Linked DNA regions of Homo sapiens: region 2 is linked to region 1. The links come from fine-mapping of genetic effects on gene expression. A gene starts in region 1. The other region holds a variant in brackets. All regions are shown on one strand. Distances are between the middles of the regions. Region 1 holds the start of CYP1B1 (cytochrome P450 family 1 subfamily B member 1). Region 2 holds the start of CYP1B1-AS1 (CYP1B1 antisense RNA 1).

Region 1 (8,296 bases):
ATTGTTTGCAACTCCGAAAAAAAATGTATACACGTATGTGATGAAGTGGAGTTATTTTTAGAATCGCTTCTTCAACATTATATTGCAGGAGTCTGCCAACTTTTTTCATAGAAACATGTATGGTGGGGAGAGCCAGAGAGTATCTATTTTAGACTTTGTGGACCAAACCCTCTTTGTTGCACTACTCTGCTCTGCCTTGTGTTGTAGAGTGAACGCAGCCATCGACAATGTATAAATGAATGGGCATGACTGCGTCAATAAAACGTATATACAAAAACAGATCGTGTAATTTGCCAAGCCCTGTCATACGTCTTTTCACTAAAAAGGAAAAAAAAAGTATCAGCATATTGAATTGAAAGTGACCTCCAAATTGTTTTATTTCTTTTTGCCGCCTAATTGGAGTACTCGGAGAACTATTGTGGTTCTAATGAAAAACAAAGGCCGTTTCAAAAGTTAAAATGCCTATCTGCGGATGCACAAAAACCTATGGAACCTATTCCGGGATTTCCTTTTCCCTGATCTCTGGTTGACTTTTCTTTATTCGATTTCTGCCTCTCCCTCACCCACCATGGGTGTTTCTATGATTTTAATACTAAAAAGCCATTTTAAGTATACAGAAACTTTTAATTTGTGAAGGTAGCTGTACAGTATCTAAGGAAATATAGATTGCAGTGGATTTTAATAAGGAAAGAGTCATTCTCTGCCTTCCAAACACCTTTCTGTGGCGCCTGCAGATTCAGCATCTCCAACTGCTCACTTGTGCTCCAAGAAATGACACAAAACCAGGATTTCTGGTCTCTTCGGCAATCAAAATTTGCCTTGCGAAACATTTGCCCCTAGGGATAGTGTTTCCACAGTAAATACTACAGGCCGCCCAGTTAAATATGGATTTCAGATCAACAAGGGCTAATCTTTTAGTGTGAGTATTCCCGTGTAAAACTTACTTTTCTTTTGCCAAATCTGGCAACCCGACACCAGGGACCTGTTGAATCCGTGCTTAGTAGAGACCAACGTGGGCATCAGGGGGTCCGCTAACTGAGCCAAGCGCAGGGGCCAGAAACGTCTGCAGGCGCCTCCTGGATATCCCATCTGCCTTTCTGAATGCTACTCTGCTTTCGTAAAAGTGACTGCTTCTTGTCTTCTACCCCGGCATTTCTCAAACTCCTAGCGCGGAGGTTTTATAAACCTAGCGCTGCCCGCTAGTTGTGGCCGCCTTCTGAAAGTTTCTGTGCGGGTTACCTGTCGGCTGGCCCGGCCTCCATGGGCTTCCTTGGCCTGGAACAAAGCCCTGACGGGCGGCCCGCTTTTAGCGCCAGGGCTGGGCGGCCTCGGATGCACGCCGAGGACTAGCCTAGGAGAGGCTGCTGTGTTTAACATATTTATGACATTACCTTTTCTTTCGGAACTATTCCAGTTCTGATTGTAATGCGCCAGGGAGAGAGATATCAGGGCTCATCTCCAAGCATTTAAAAACTCTTGTTTTTCCGGGGGGTGGAGGGGTCTTTGCAAATGTGTTCTCACTCGCAAGCAGGGGAGGGGACGATAGAGACAAGATAGGAGACCGGAGGGGTCGGGGCACCGCTGGGTGGGGCGCGTGCGCGTGTCGCAGCCCTCACTGTGAGTCCCTTTACCGACGCGATCTTGGTTTTGAGGGGTGGGGACCTGGAGCGAAACCCCAAACCCGGGGCCCTGCTTGCAAACTCAGCATATTCTGTCTCTACTCCGCCTTTTTCAGAGGAGAAAAGACCTGGCCCACGCCTCCCAGAGGCTTTACCTGGTGAAGAGGAGGAGCAGCCACTGCAGCGCGGTGGACAGGGTGTCCTGGCTGGCGCCGAAGATGTCAGTGATAGTGGCCGGTACGTTCTCCAAATCCAGCCGCGCGCCACCACCGTGCGAGTCCCCGGCCGCCTTCTTTTCCGCAGAGAGGATAAAGGCGTCCATCATGTCGCGGGGGGCGGCCCCGGGCCGAAGGCTTTCGCAGTGCCTCAAGAACTTGTCCAGGATGAAGTTGCTGAAGTTGCGGTTGAGCTGCTCGAATTCGCGGAAAACGGTGCGCACCGGGTTGGGGAAGTACTGCAGCCAGGGCATCACGTCCACCAGGCTGCCCGCGCCCACCGTGCGCCCGAACTCTTCGTTGTGGCTGAGCAGCTCACGGAACTCGGGGTCGTCGTGGCTGTAGCGGCAGCCGAAACACACGGCACTCATGACGTTGGCCACGGCCACGACGGTCAGCGGCCTCGGGTCGAGGAAGGCGCCGTCCGCGCTGCCGCGCACCAGCAGCGCCACCAGCTCGCGCGCCTCGCTCAGCACGTGGCCCTCGAGGACTTGGCGGCTGCGCGGCTGGCGCGTGAAGAAGTTGCGCATCATGCTGTGGGCTGCGCGCCGCTGCACCTTCCAGTGCTCCGAGTAGTGGCCGAAAGCCATGCTGCGGCCGCCGGACACCACACGGAAGGAGGCGAAGGCCGGCCGGTCGGCGAAGGCCGAGCCCTGCTGCACCAGGGCCTGGTGGATGGCGCGCTCGCCATTCAGCACCACTATGGGGCAGCTGCCCAGGCGGATCTGGAAAACGTCGCCGTAGCGCCGCGCCAGGCGAGCGAACGAGAGGTGAGCCGCCTGGCCCACCGCCGCCGCGTTTCCGATCAGTGGCCACGCAAACGGGCCCGGGGGCGCGGACCGGAGCTGCCGCCTCCGTTGCCTCAGCAGCCGCTGGCCCACATGCACAGTGGCCAGCACCGACAGGAGTAGCAGGAGCGTGGTCTGCTGGATGGACAGCGGGTTTAGCGGCCAAGGGTCGTTCGGGCTGAGGCTGGTGCCCATGCTGGGGACAGAGAGGAGAAGGCGTGACACTCAGGGGTGCAGAGACAGGAGCGGGCGCCCCACGCCCCTACCCCAGCCTCTGGGGACTGAGTGCCGTTGGGTGGAGAGGTCGGAGCTGACTCTCTGGAGAAATGGCCGAAGACGCCCCTTCCCATCCCCAACCCACTCTCCCTTGGAGAAGAGAAGGGGCGTGTTTCCACCTCGCTGTAACCCAGCGCCAAACCCTTCCCCTCCCCGCAAGGCGCGTAACGGTTCCTGCAATCTGGGGACAACGCTGCGGGCATCGAGGCGGTGGCGCTTGATTTCCTTTAAAGTACCTACCACGCCACCCGCTACCTGTAATAATCCATCTGAAGAGGTCGCCGGGCAGCGCCTCGGCAGACAGACTGACCTGCGGGGAGGTGCGGTTTCCAGTGGCGCGGGACAGCCGGCTCCGAGAAGGAACTGGGACCTTTGCCTAGGGCAAGACGTCAACAGGAACCCGCAGGCCCGGCCTGGACACCTGCTGCCCTCACTGGAAGCTTTAACTCCCACTCGAGTCTCTTGGCGTCGTCAGTGCCAGGAGCGCTTGGATTGGGATGGGGACGGAGAAGGGTGCCTCGCTCGCCGAGCCCCGCTGCCCTTGGGGACCTGGCAAAGTCGAGGTTTCCTCACAGCGTTGAGATTGAGACTGGGGGTCGGTGAGTGGCGTCAATTCCCATGCCCTTGCGGCTCTCACAACTGGAGTCGCAGAAGCGCTCGCTCCCACTCCCACTCCAGAGTCAAAGCGCGCCATCCCGCTCCTCCGGGTTTTAAGGACTGGGTAGAAGGAGGGCAGCGCGACCTGGCAGGGCGGGGCCTGCGGGGGGCGGGGCGCGCCGCACACCAGGCCGCTTTGACCCGGACTCCCGTCCAGGCGCACCGGCCGGCCTCGGAGCTCTACCAGCAGGCTTTCATGGGAGCGGAGGTGCCCACGTTTCCATTGTGCGGTAACCGCGCTTCATCACAGCCACCTCCAATCGAGGCCGCACGGTGTCCCCAGAACCACGCTCGGTACAACCTGCCCCGGCCGCTGCGCTCGACTTGGGAGCGCGCCCCGCCCCGAGCGCACGACCTCCCTTCCCTCTCCGCGACTTGAGCTTGCTTCCCGGAAAGCCAGTGTAGTGGCAGCGGTTTGCCTCACAGCGCCCCTGGTTGGTTGTTTAAATTTTATCTTAGGTTCTCGCAAACAAATTGCCACCTCAGTGGAGGCTCTTTGGCATGCTAAATTTTTTCCAGTTCTTGCGGCGAGATCAGGAATCCCTAAAAGTAGCCGCTCCCCCGCCCCGGGGCCCCGACAGTGCTTGGGCACACAAAGGCTCCTGGGGCGCAGCTGGCCCTGAGATTTCCCGCGTAGAGGCCACTCCAGGTGGCGCCGCCCGCTGGTGGGCGCGGGGCCGCCCAGGCTGCGATGGAAGCCGTTGGCGCAGGGCGGGGAGCCAAGCTGGGGCGACTGGGGGGGCCTGGGGGAGCTAGCGGGGCGGGACCCGAGCGGGGCGGAGAGTGGCAGGAGGAGGCGAATCTCCGCGCTCCGGCGAACTTTATCGGGTTGAAGTTTCTGCTGTCGCCTCCCCTTTGCGTGCGGAGCTGGGCTTTGCGTGCGCCGCTTCTGGAAAGTCGGCTCCAGTCATATCCCTGGGCGCTGCCTGCGGCCGCTCCTCCCGCGCTTCTCACGGCACCTGACACGCGGAGGCGGCGGCCGAGGGTGGGGTGCCGGCCACCACCACCCTTGGCGTGGGGTGCCGGCCGCCACCACCCTCGGCTGCGCACGCACAGTCGCGCCTGCCAGGCCAGCGAGGCGGACGCTTGGGCCACCACCCGCAGGCCGAGCCCGGGCGCGTATCGCCACCTCGCTGCGCACCGGCGGCTCTGTGGTCTTCCTGGGCGCGCTTGCGGTCGCGAAGGGGGCCCTCCCTTTATAAGGGAAGCCGGAGGCGCTTGGGCGGGGGTGGCTTCCCCCGCCTGGCGCGCCCTTTCCTACATGCTGATGCATAGGATTTTCAAGACAGCTAAGAGAACAAGGACTTCACGAGGCGGGGGGAAGGGCGAACTCGAGGGAAGAGGTGGGATGTATCTGGTTAACCAGGTAGGAATTGTACTGGCTTCATCAAAGGATAAATATAAAAGTGATAGGTTCACCAGGGACAACCCTGCACTTTGAGCTCCACTCGCGCTGCGAATCTCGTGCTATTATTGACCTGTTTACAGATGAATAAACTAGGGTTCAGAGAGGTTGCGTGACTTAACCCAGGTCGCGCAGCCATCAAGAAGTGGAGCCAGGGCTTGAAGCCACCAAGTCCCACTCCAGATCCTTCACATAAGTTTACACGGAAGAAAATTGCAGATAAGAGGCCCAAATGCCTTCTTTCCTGCCTCCCTTAAAAAAAAAAATGCACGTGGGGCTAGGCGCAGTGGCTCACGCCTGTAATCCCAGCACTTTGGGAGGCTTAAGCGGGCGGATCACTTGAGGTCAGGAGTTCGAGACCAGCCTGGCCAACATGGCGAAACCCCATCTACTAAAAATACAAAAGTTAGCCGGACGTGGTGGTGCACACCTGTAATCCCAGCTACTCGGGGATCAGGGGGGAAGGCAGCAGAATTGGTTGAACGTGGGAGGCAGAGGTTGCAGTGAGCAGAGATTGCACCACTGCACTACAGCCTGGGCAGCAGAGTTTAAGTGAGACTCTGTCTCAAAAAAAAAAAAAAAAAAAAAATCAGCTGGAAGAACTTTTTAATTATTGTTTTTGTTTTCATAATTGAGAATTCTGAGAATAGCAGAGAAGAAATAGTATGCTAACCCTTTGCAATTAAATTGCTTATGAGGGAGGCCAGGGGAGTGTGCCTCATAGCTGACCCTGGAATGACTGATTACATTGTAAAGAAACACAAAGGAGTGTCTGAAAAGAATCTGACTTCTTGAGAGATTGAAACCAGCAATCAATTTGCTGACCTGATAAAGAAATGTCTTTTCGTGATGGCTTTTTTTATTTTTATTTTTATTTATTTATTTTTTTTGAGATGGAGTCTCACTCTGTCACCTGGGCTGCAGTGCAATGGCGTGATCTCGGCTCACTGCAACCTCCGCCTGCCAGGTTCTCCTGGCTCAGCCTCCCAAGTAGCTGGGATTACAGGTGCGCACCACCACACCCGGCTAATTTTTGTATTTTTCTAGTAGAGATGGGGTTTCACCATGCTGGCCAGGCTGGTCTCAAACTCCTGACCTCAGGTGATCCACCAGCCTGGGCCTCCCAAAGTGCTGGGATTACAGGCATGAGCCACCGTGCCCGGCCTGTGATGCCTTTTATTCGGTATCTTTTGAAGAGTTTTCTGGAAATGATTTCACACACCATGATGGGGAACTTAGATAGTGATGGAGTTTTAGTTTTTGAGCAGTTGCATTGGTTTAATAATAAGCGTTGGTTTCCCAGAGGTGAGTTGGCCTACACAGCCTTTGAAATGAGTTTCATAGCAACCTTCCCATGTCCAGCTTTAGCAAGATCCTTGCCTAATAATTCAAGACTCTGGTGCATGCATCAATCTCTCATAGACTTTAATTTAGTAGACGGGAATTATCTATGAGCTAATGCCAATCCTGAGCTGTTGACATTCCTGAAAGCCTTTATCACAATACCTCTGCCAGAATGAGAGCAGATGGAAGTTGCCTTTAAGTAAATTCCTATTTTTAAAAAGTATAAAACGAGGTTGTTCCTAAGACCGCCTGTCCAACTCCTCAATAATGCCATCTAGTTTTTAGATCAACTAGATGCATGCTTTCCTGCCATCGCAGATAGATCAGATATATCCTCCAAGCTGTAGTTCCTTGGGCTCAGCTCTTTTTCTAGGACATGACTCAAAAATCAGAGGAACTAGGTTGGTAAGTGCTGTCAGAAAGATAAGCCCTTATCGGTTATGGCAAACCAAAATGACTGGCTATGGTAACACTTTTTGCAGAGAATCTTCAAGCCTGGAGTTCTTAGGGCTTTATGGTGCAAACTTCATTGAATGCCCCATCCGGTACCCTGATAAGGACTTCGGATAAATCCAGAGCAGCCTGTTGGCACCCCGACCCAACTCAAGGCAGAGCCCTGCCTCTAGTGAGAATCTACGCAGGCTCTTTAATTATCATCACAACTTCTCAACCAAAGCAGGGACCTAAGGCCCAGGAATCTCCTTTCAATCAACACAGAATATGGGCATTCTGCCCTCCCAAATCTCAAACTTGAATTGTTTGTTGCAAATAACTTTCAAAAAGAACAGCTAAGCTAGAGGGATAGTTTAAAGTAGAGAGAGGTTTAAAATATCTTATCTTGTATTGACTCGAAGGAACAACTTAAGCTTGTTTAAGCAGAACAGGAATGCACTGGCCCATGTGCAGAGAAGGATAACCGTGATGCTTCACAGGATACAAGGACCCAGGCCGCTCTACCGGCTCTCTGCCTATGCTGGTCTTTGCTTGGGCTTTCTCTCTTTGCATGGCAAGGAAGCAGCTTAAAATTAACAAAACAAAGAGAAAGAGAACAGCTCTCTTCCAGGGTCCTAGAAGGACTCCAGGGGGCCAGGCTGGCATCAGGTTTTTACCCTGTGGGCAAGGGCTTGTTCTGTCATCAGAAAAAAAGAGATGGCAGAACATGCTAGGAAGCCAAAGAGCTGACCCAGTCCACTCCATGTATACATGTCTGCCCACTGGTTTCTTTGGGTTGGAGGATAACCTAAGGAAACCCAAAGCCATTATTGTTATTATTATTTTAAATCAGCAGATATATGCATTGCCCTTAGAGCCAGTAGCCCAGAAAGCTCTGCCCTTCTGCTGTCAGGCTGGAACTCAGTTTTCTTCATGGTCTTCCTCTCTAGTGTGACCCCTAAGTCAGTTTAATGGGTAGCCACTGTGCTTTTCCAGTCATCTCCAAACACACATACCCACATGCACTGAGGAGAGTGGAGGAGAATAAGCCATCTCTGGTAGGCTCTTGACATTTGGGTGGGCAGGATTCAGTCATCAGGCACATGCTGGTAGGCAAGAGGAGCAGAAATAAGGAGACACACCAAGTGGCTGAGGGTGCGATAGAGGGAGGAACTGTAGGATAATGCACACCAGGGGCTGGACCATGAAAGGAATCTTAGGAATTGATACCAAAACCCTGTGCCTCACCTGAAATGCTCCACTTCCTTCCTCCTGGCAATACACAGGCAGAGAACCACAGAGCTAATAGAAAGGTATTTTATCTAATCTCAGAAGCCATCATTTGTAGGATGCACCCTTATTTTTATGTACTAACATAAAGAAAGGAAGCTACCAATTATAATTGCATCATCGACTCTAAGATACATCCAGATTTCGGAGATGTAAAATGGAAAGTTGAGGGTATGATTTGGAGCTGACAAAGCATTATACATTTCATGCGCGTCCGTGTGAAGAGACCACCAAACAGGCTTTGTGTGAGCAATAAAGCTTTTAATCACC
Region 2 (8,329 bases), 52 kb after region 1:
TCCAAGACTAGTCCACGCAGGCCTGCAGCTCCCACATTCTGATGCATCAAAGCCACAGCAAGTTCCTAAAACATAGGCTCTGGATCCAGATGCTTTTGGTTCAAATTTTCACTTCATTATTTCTCAGATGTGTGACTTATGGCAATTACTTACTTCTCTAAGGCTCACTTTCCACATCTGTAAAATAGGGCTAATGATAGTATTTGCTTCATAAGATTGGGGATTGAATGGGATAATGCACTTAGCTCAATACTCACCCATAAACTTTTTTTTTTTTTTTTTTTTTTTTTTTGAGACAGAGTCTTGCTCTGTTGCCCAGGCTGGAGTGCAGTCGTGCGATCTTGGCTCACTGAAATCTCCACCTCCCAGGTTCAAGCAATTCTCCTGCCTCGGCCTCCCATGTAGCTGGGATTTCAGGCACACACCAACACCCCCGACTAATTTTTTTGAATTTTTAGTAGAGACAGGATTTTACCATGTTAGTCAGGCTGGTCTCAAACTCCTGGCCTCAAGTAATCCGCCCACCTTGGCCTCCCAAAGGGCTGGGATTACAGGCGTGAGCCACCACTCCCAGCCAACAATATTCAATTACATACTCAATTACTATGTTCTTTTTCTGGTAACTAGAATGTAGGATCTTATGATTGGCCCCAAGTTCAAAGATATGGGCAAGTAAGTATAATATAAGAGTGTAGATACAGATTTTGTAGGATATATGCCATGGCCTCTGTCCCATATCAGTTTAATACCTATTTTCCAATGTAATGCCCTGAAATCCCAGAAGAGGAAAAAAGAATTTTTTTCTAACAATTAGAAACATGATAAAAAAAACTATCAAAGGTATATTCATTCAGCCATGCAAATTGTAAAACCATAGCAATCATTCTATTTGTTTGGTCACAGTTTAAAAAAGGAAATTTGCTATAAGAAAAATAAATACAAACAAACACAAAAAGAGTTGAATGCCACCTGCAGAAGAAGCACCAATCCAACTATTTTACCCTGCCCACATTCACCATGTTTCTCACAATTGCCTATAAAAAGTAGTCACCATTTATTGTACCAGGCAGTGAGCTAAGTGCTTTATGGACCCTGTCTCGTTTAACTGTCCCCAGAGTCCTATGAGTAGGTATGTTAGTGCCATGCCCATATCACGGATAAGGAGATATGCCAGGTCAGAGAGGCGAGTTGGGATTCACACGCAGCAGACTTGCTCCAGGGCCTGTGTTCTCAACACTGCATGGTGCCGCTTCTGATCTGGATTGTTAAATCTCAGCACCCAGCACTCCTGGCTTGGGTAGAAGGGAATGGGCCCAGAGGTGCTGAGAATGGATCTCATGTACACCTAGGGTCGAAGTTGGAACAGAGAGTATGTGGAGAGCCTGGGCTAAGACTGAAGCCGCCATGATGAAAACCAAACTCAAGCAGTCTTGTTTTTTAAAACCAATGGGAGTAGTAAAGTATAAATGTAAATCTCAGTTATCTTATCATGCCACCCTATAGGTGTTTCCAGTAGTTACTTTAGAGCTATCAAAGATACATCTGAAATAACGGTACTGTGTATATACTTGAGTCCTCTTCCCCAGCTTGACACTCCTAGGAGTCAGGTGTTCTCTGGGCCAGATCATTTGCCCACAAACATAGCAATATGCCTAGCCTTCTCATTATATAAGGTCCCCCATTATATGGGGGACCTTATATAATTTCATCATATGGATGAAAAATGGGATTATTTTATTATTTGACTCTTCTCTCTAGGATTCAAAGTGCTTTTATTTATAGATTTTCATGATTTAACCAATTCACCCAAGAAGTAGGAAGAGGGCAGCTTTATTATTTTCAAATTGTGGACTGAGAAACTGAGATATGCAGAAAGAAATAAAGCTGCTCTGCAATTTGGAAAACCATCTGTGATGCTATAAAAACGTCTCACTGTACTCTCAACCACATAAATCACTATTTTTATTGCCTTCTCTCTGGATGAGATGTGGCTTAATTTGAGAGAGCTGTTTATCATTTGGCAAGCTGAAAGAACCTAATTTCAAGTCTCCATTCTAGTGGGTGGTAAGAATAAAGGGAATTTGCTTTAAGGGAAGAGGAAATGATAAGAATGGGAAGGAAACGGTTAGACCTAAAAAAAATCGATTTTGAAACCCTTTGGATTATCATGGATTTAATTTGCCAAGCATGGGTGAGGGGTCACATGGAATGGGTTTGAATTCTAAGCCACCATTATGACCACTCACTTAATGTTTCTTCCTACCACTCCCATTCTACAGTGAGCCCATGATTAAGATAACAACAGCTTAAATGAGTTAGTGCATAGTATGGTTTGGCTCTGGGTCCCCACCCAAATCCCGTGTTAAATTGTAATCTTGAGTGTTGGACGTGGGGCTTGGTGAGAGGTGATTTGATCATGAGGGTGATTTCTAATGGTTTAGCACCATCCCCACAGTGCTGCCTTATGATAGAGTTCTCAGGCGATCTGGTTGTTTGAAAGCATGTAGCACTTCCGCTGCCCTTCTCCTGCTGGCCATGTGAAGGTGTGCCTGTTTCTCCTTTACCTTCTGCCATGATTGTAAGTTTCCTGAGGCCTCCCCAAAAGCAGAAGCCTTTACAGCCCACAGAACTGTGAGCTGATTAAACATCTTTCTTTATAAATTACCCAGTCTCAGGTAGTTTTTATAGCAATGCAAGAACAGACTAATGAAGAAAATTGGTACCAGAGAAGTGAGGCATTACTACAAAGATACCTGAAAATGTGGAAGCAGCTTTGGAACTGGATAATGGGCAGAGGGTGGAACAGTTTGGAAAGCTCAGAAGAAGACAGGAAGATGAGGAAATGTTTGGAATTTCCTAGAGACTTGTTTAATGGTTTTGACCAAAATGCTCATAGTGATATGGGCAGAGATGGCCAGGCTGATGAGGTCTCAGATGGAGATGAGGAACTTATTGAGAACTGGAGTAAAGGTCACTCTTGCTATGCTTTAGCAAAGAGACTGGTGGCATTGTGCTCCTGCTCTAGGGATCTGTTGAACTTTGACCTTGAGAGATGATTTAGGGTATCTGGCAGAAGAAATTTCTAAGCATCAAAGTGCTCAAGATGTGGCCTGGCTGCTTCCAAAAGCCTAACTCATCTGCATAAACAAAGAAATGACCTGAAAAGGGAGGCAAAGCATAAAAGATAGATAGGAAAATTTGCAGCCTAGCCATGTGGTAGAAAAGAAAAACCCATTTTCTGGGGAGAAATTCAAGCCCAATACAGAAATTTGCATAAGTAAAGAGGAGCCAAATATTAGCAGTCAAGACAATGGGGAAAATGCCTATGAGGCATTCCAGAGACCTTTGGGGCAGCCCCTCCCATCACAGGCCTGGAGGCCTAGGAGGGAAAAATGGTTTCATGGGGCCAGGCCCAGGGCCCTGCTGCTTTGTGCAGCCTTGGGGCATGGCACCCTGCATCCCACTTGCTCCAGCTACAGCTGTGGCCAAAAGGGCCCCAGATACTTCTCAGACTGCTGCTCCAGAGAGTGCAAGCCACAAGCCTTGGTGGCTTCCATGTGGTGTTAAGCCTGCAAGTACAAAGAGGATGAGAGTTGAGGCTTGGGAACCTCCACCTAGATTTCAGAGGATGTATGGAAAGGCCTGGATGTCCAGGCGGGAGTCTCCTGCAGGGGCAGAGCCTTCATGGAGAATATCTAGTAGGGCAGTGCAAAGGGGAAATGTGGGGTTGGAGCCCCCACACAGAGTCCCCACTGGGGCACTGCCTAGTGGAGCTCTGAAAAGAAGGTCATCCTCCTCCAGACCCCAGCTTGCACTGTGTACCTGGAAAATCCACAGGCACTCACATCAGTCCATGAAAGCAGCCACAGGGGATGTACCCTGCAGAGCTGCCCAAGGCCTTGGAAGCCCACCCCCTCCATCAGCATGGCCTGGATGTGAGACACAGAGTCAAGATTATTTTGGAGCTTTAAGATTTAATGACCGTCCTGCTGGGTTTCGGACTTGCATGGGGCCTGTAGCCCCTGTGTTGTGGCTGAGTTCTCCTTTCTGGAAATGGAGTATTTACCCAATGCCTGTACTCCCATTGTATCTTGGAAGTAGCTAACTTGTTTTTGATTTTACAGGCTCATAGGTGGAAGGGACTTGCCTTGTCTCCGATTAGACTTTGGACTTGGACTTTTGAGTTAATTCTGGAATGAGTTAAGACTTTGGGGGACTGTTGAGAAGGGATGGTTATATTTTACAATGTGAGAGGATATGAGATTTGGGAGGGGCCAAGGGTGGAATGGTATGGTGGGGCTTTGTGTCCCTACCCAAATCTCATGTTGAACTGTGATCCCGAGTGCTGGAGGGAGGGTTTGGTGGGAGGTGATTGGATCACAGGGGTGGTTTTTAATGGTTTAGCGCCATTCCCCCAATTTCTTAGGAAATCTGCTTGTTTGAAAGTGTGTAGCATCTCCTTTGCCCCTCTCCTGCTGCTAATGGCCTGTTTCCCCTTCACCTTGTGCCACGATTGTAAGTTTCCTGAGGCCTCCCCCAGAAGCAGAAGCCTGTACAGCCCACAGGAACCATGAGCTGACTAACCATCTTTTCTTTATAAATTACCCAGTTCTTTATGGCAACGTAAGAATGGACCAATAGAGCACATCACTAGGGTAGCACAAAGGAGAGGGCCCAGAAGCAGAGGAGAGATAAACAGCTCATTTTTTTCATCTTTCTCAATGTTTCTTGCTCACTCTCTGTTGTTTGCATCCATTTTTCATTTCATCCCATTTCCTCTTTTTTCCCTTTCATTTCCTCATTTTGGGACAGCAAGA[G/C]GTCATGTTCTTGCTGCCAACAGTTACGACATTTTCAGTAGTCATGACAGCCACAAAGCCAGGGCTGGACTTGTCCAGAAGTCTGATCTGCAGCAGGAGGGAGTCTGTAGTGTGCAGGGGCTCTCCAGCTGTCACTTAGATCCCAAGCTGCCCCTTCACTTTTAATTTTGCTGATGGTGGCTTTTGTCAAAGGCAATTTAAAATTTAGGGCTAGGTAGTCTAATCTGTCAATCTTTTCTTTTCTTTGTGGTTTCCAGGTTTGTGTCTTACTTAGGAGGGCCTTCCCAATGCTAAAATTATATATATAAACAGATATACCACAATTGCCTAAACAGAAATTTGGGCAAGCTGGCACATTTGAAACAGGGCTGTCTCCTAAAATTTGGAACGTGTGGATAGCGTGCATATGCTTGGACTCTAGGACTTACTTTCTCTGGAAAAATCCGTCTAGCTTCCTCACTCACTGCCTCTGCCTCCCAGCTCCAGCCTAGCCATTTCATCTTATGGTGGGGGAGCACTCAGTTGCTAGGGCCAGAAACCCACTCAGAGTAACTTAAGTAAATGGGGATTACTTGCACAGTGATAACGGAATACTGTGAAACCCAGTTTGAAGAATTGCACCTGGATCACTGAAGGGCTAGAGTCTGGAGCTGCCCTTCCTCCTCCCTTTCTCTCAGTTATCTTTGTCTCTGCTCCATCCTCCCCCTTCGTCAAGCATACTCTGTTACCACATGACCTTAAATGACTGTCTAACTCAGTCCTTGAGCCCACAGAATCTTGTGAGTCTAGCACTCACAGATAAAAAAACACCCTCAGGCTTTCTGTGTCCCAACTCCAAGTTCTAGATAAAGATGTCTGATTGGTTAAAGTGGGTCATGTTTAAAGTGGGTCTACTCCCAATTCAGTTATTGGTGGCCAGGGCCATGAGCCACATGGTTGCCCCTTGGGGCAGTGGGCAAGGTAAAGTTCACAAGATGTGGTGGGGAGGAAATGACCACTGTAACTCTGTGGTCCAGTTCCCACACCCATATTGTGATTTTTGCTCCCCTTCAAGTTTGCCCTTGATGTTGTCTGTAACTGAATTCTGTTTTCTCCCATGGTTAGATTTATACCAGATCCAGGACCTTTTAGGGAGGGCTGTGGTCCTGTCCCCTTGGGGAGGCTCTGATCTAAGACTGCTCCCTCATGGAAATTAAGGAGAAGGGGAAAGCCTAGGCTACAGATGGAGAAGGATGAGTCATTCCAGCAGCCATGGCCAAGGGAACTCCTGGAGACGTAGGGACTGTTTATGTGGCCACTCACCATCATGCAGGCCCCCAATGGGGGTGAGGCAAGGAAGGACATAGAAAGACTGCTCAAGTGCATTTCTGGTTTTGCTTCCTACCGCAAACGACTCTTGTCATATGACTGGGGGAGTGTGGTGGTGGCAATAAGCAGAAAAATTTGAGTCTAAGAGTTGCTTTCTGAATTCTATTAGGGTCAATGTAGTCTAAAGAAGTTGACTTTTGAGGAAATAAATCTTTTCTGTTTTCTGCAGCCAGACTAAGGATTTAGTGGTGAATGGTAGGTGGGAACATAGTGGGACTCTGACTGCTCATACGGCCTCTGTGAGGCTCAATTCTTTTATCTCTAAAAGAGAGAACTGTCTACCTGGTAAGAGAAGATCTTTTGGGAGCCCACTAAACTCTAACATAATGTTATTATACAGTAAGTTCTCACTTAATGTCATCGACAGTTTCTTGGAAACTATAGCTTTAAGCAAAATGACATGTAACAAAAGCGTTTTTTTCTCATCAACGTTATAACAAAACGTTAAAGGAAGTGACATTATTTATGAACCTGCTGCATGTTGTTTTGCTTAAAGTTACAGATTCCAAGAACCTATCGATGACATTAAGTGAGGACTTACTGTACTAGTATCATTTATAACTTATAAAAATGACTTAATTAATATACCACAAAATATGCAGCTTTCATGTTAGAGACCAGATAAATATGAATATTTTGTTAAAATGTCTCTCTTCTCTACTTTACCAGTCTTCACCAACCTCCTCCCTCCAGAATATTCCTCAAGAATATAAAATGCCTCATCAACATGAGACAACAGCAGGAAGCACCCATTCGTAGTAATCCTCTGTATGGAGGAGGCTGTTACATAACCACAAAGGCACAAAGCTGCAGTTTTGAGAACATCTTCCCACGCCAGTTCTAAGCATTGACTTCAACTATGGTTGCTAACACAAGAATCGGCACTGGTGACTTTTGAGCCATCAATCATCCTTTCCTAACACATGAATCTTTTGGAAAAGTATGTGAGATTGGAGATTACCTGTGATGGTTTGGATTTAGATTTTGCCTCCAGGTTTAGGCAATGGTAAATAGGCAGGAGTTTAATAGGAACTAAGGTTATTTGATAATTCCTGGGCCACTGCAAATAGAAAGTGTTGGCAATTTTGTCTTTTGGGCTGCCTCTGATTGAAGGCACAGGCCTGTTTCATGAAGTTCTGAAACATGAACCGGCTGTATCTGCGTCAAAGTCAGTGGTAACCAGGTTAATAGCACTGACAACCATGTTCTTTTTACAGGAAACACAAACGTGAATCACTTGTTCTTACTTTTCTTTTACAGTGGTCTCAAATAGTCAAGACCCCCTGCTGGGAGGAGCTTCTATCCTGCTCTGTGGAAGAAATGGGCATGCCAGATGCCTGGAAGATCAGAGGCTCACATTCCAGGTGGGTCACCCTGGTTCTTCTCATCAGAATCAACTAGAGAGATGGGCTCCCTCTCCATCCCTACCCACGGGCATTGGTCAGGCTGAAAGCAAAGAAAGACAATCCATTGCCCCCAGGAGAACTGGTCTTACTCTAAATCAGTGGCCTGCAAACTGTTTATGTGGATGTCCGGATAGTACATTTTTTGCCTGTGTGGGCCTTCCAGTCTGTCTTAGTTACTCAACTCTGTGATTTTTGAGCAACCATTAGACAGTATGTAAATGAATGAGCATGGCCCCATCTGGCCCTCCACCCACAGGCCATAGTTTGCTGACTCCTGCAAGAGTAAAACCCTTTATGAACTAGAGAGTTCCAGGCTTGAACATGGGTCCAGAAAATATGGGAAGGCAAACCTCACACATTTGTGGTTGTGTGCCTCCTAAGTGCTTTGTGTCACTGTTGGCTTCCAATTCCTAGGAAGGGCCTTGGGCACCAACCGTATGTTGACCCAGGGAGAAAAGGACTTTTGGGAGTGAGAGTCAGAGAATGGGTACCACGTACCCTTCAGATCCCTCAGCTTTCAGATTGACACAGCAACAGATCATAGTCTCCTAAATTCTCTGGCTTAAAGCATGGAGCCACACTTATCCTGCCAGGCTGGGTCCCCAGTTCTTAGATGAGGCTAGCAGTAGCCATGAGGAGTGGGCATGTGGCTAGTACAAGAGAAGGAATGCTAGGTGGCACTTGGTCAGCAACTTTCCAATATCATGTTTCTTAATTGTATCACCAAATGTGTATTAT

The links.
Region 2: its variant is fine-mapped to the expression of CYP1B1 in whole blood (TOPMed, PIP 0.99).

What each region holds. Positions count from the first base shown.
Region 1 is chr2:38,072,572-38,080,867 of GRCh38, forward strand. It overlaps CYP1B1 (cytochrome P450 family 1 subfamily B member 1), which reads right to left and starts at 3,580. Exons shown (of 3, transcript NM_000104.4): 1 at 3,209-3,580; 2 at 1,775-2,818. The coding sequence starts at 2,817. RefSeq lists a promoter at 3,561-4,936, cis regulatory regions at 3,575-3,582, 4,503-4,532, silencers at 3,576-3,665, 4,576-4,695 and an enhancer at 4,403-4,601.
Region 2 is chr2:38,124,066-38,132,394 of GRCh38, forward strand. It overlaps CYP1B1-AS1 (CYP1B1 antisense RNA 1), which reads left to right and starts at 7,040. Exons shown (of 3, transcript NR_027252.1): 1 at 7,040-7,125; 2 at 7,446-7,549. The region is part of intron 2 of LOC107985871 (a long non-coding RNA gene); the gene reads right to left. The variant G/C (reference allele first, on the strand shown) is at 4,818.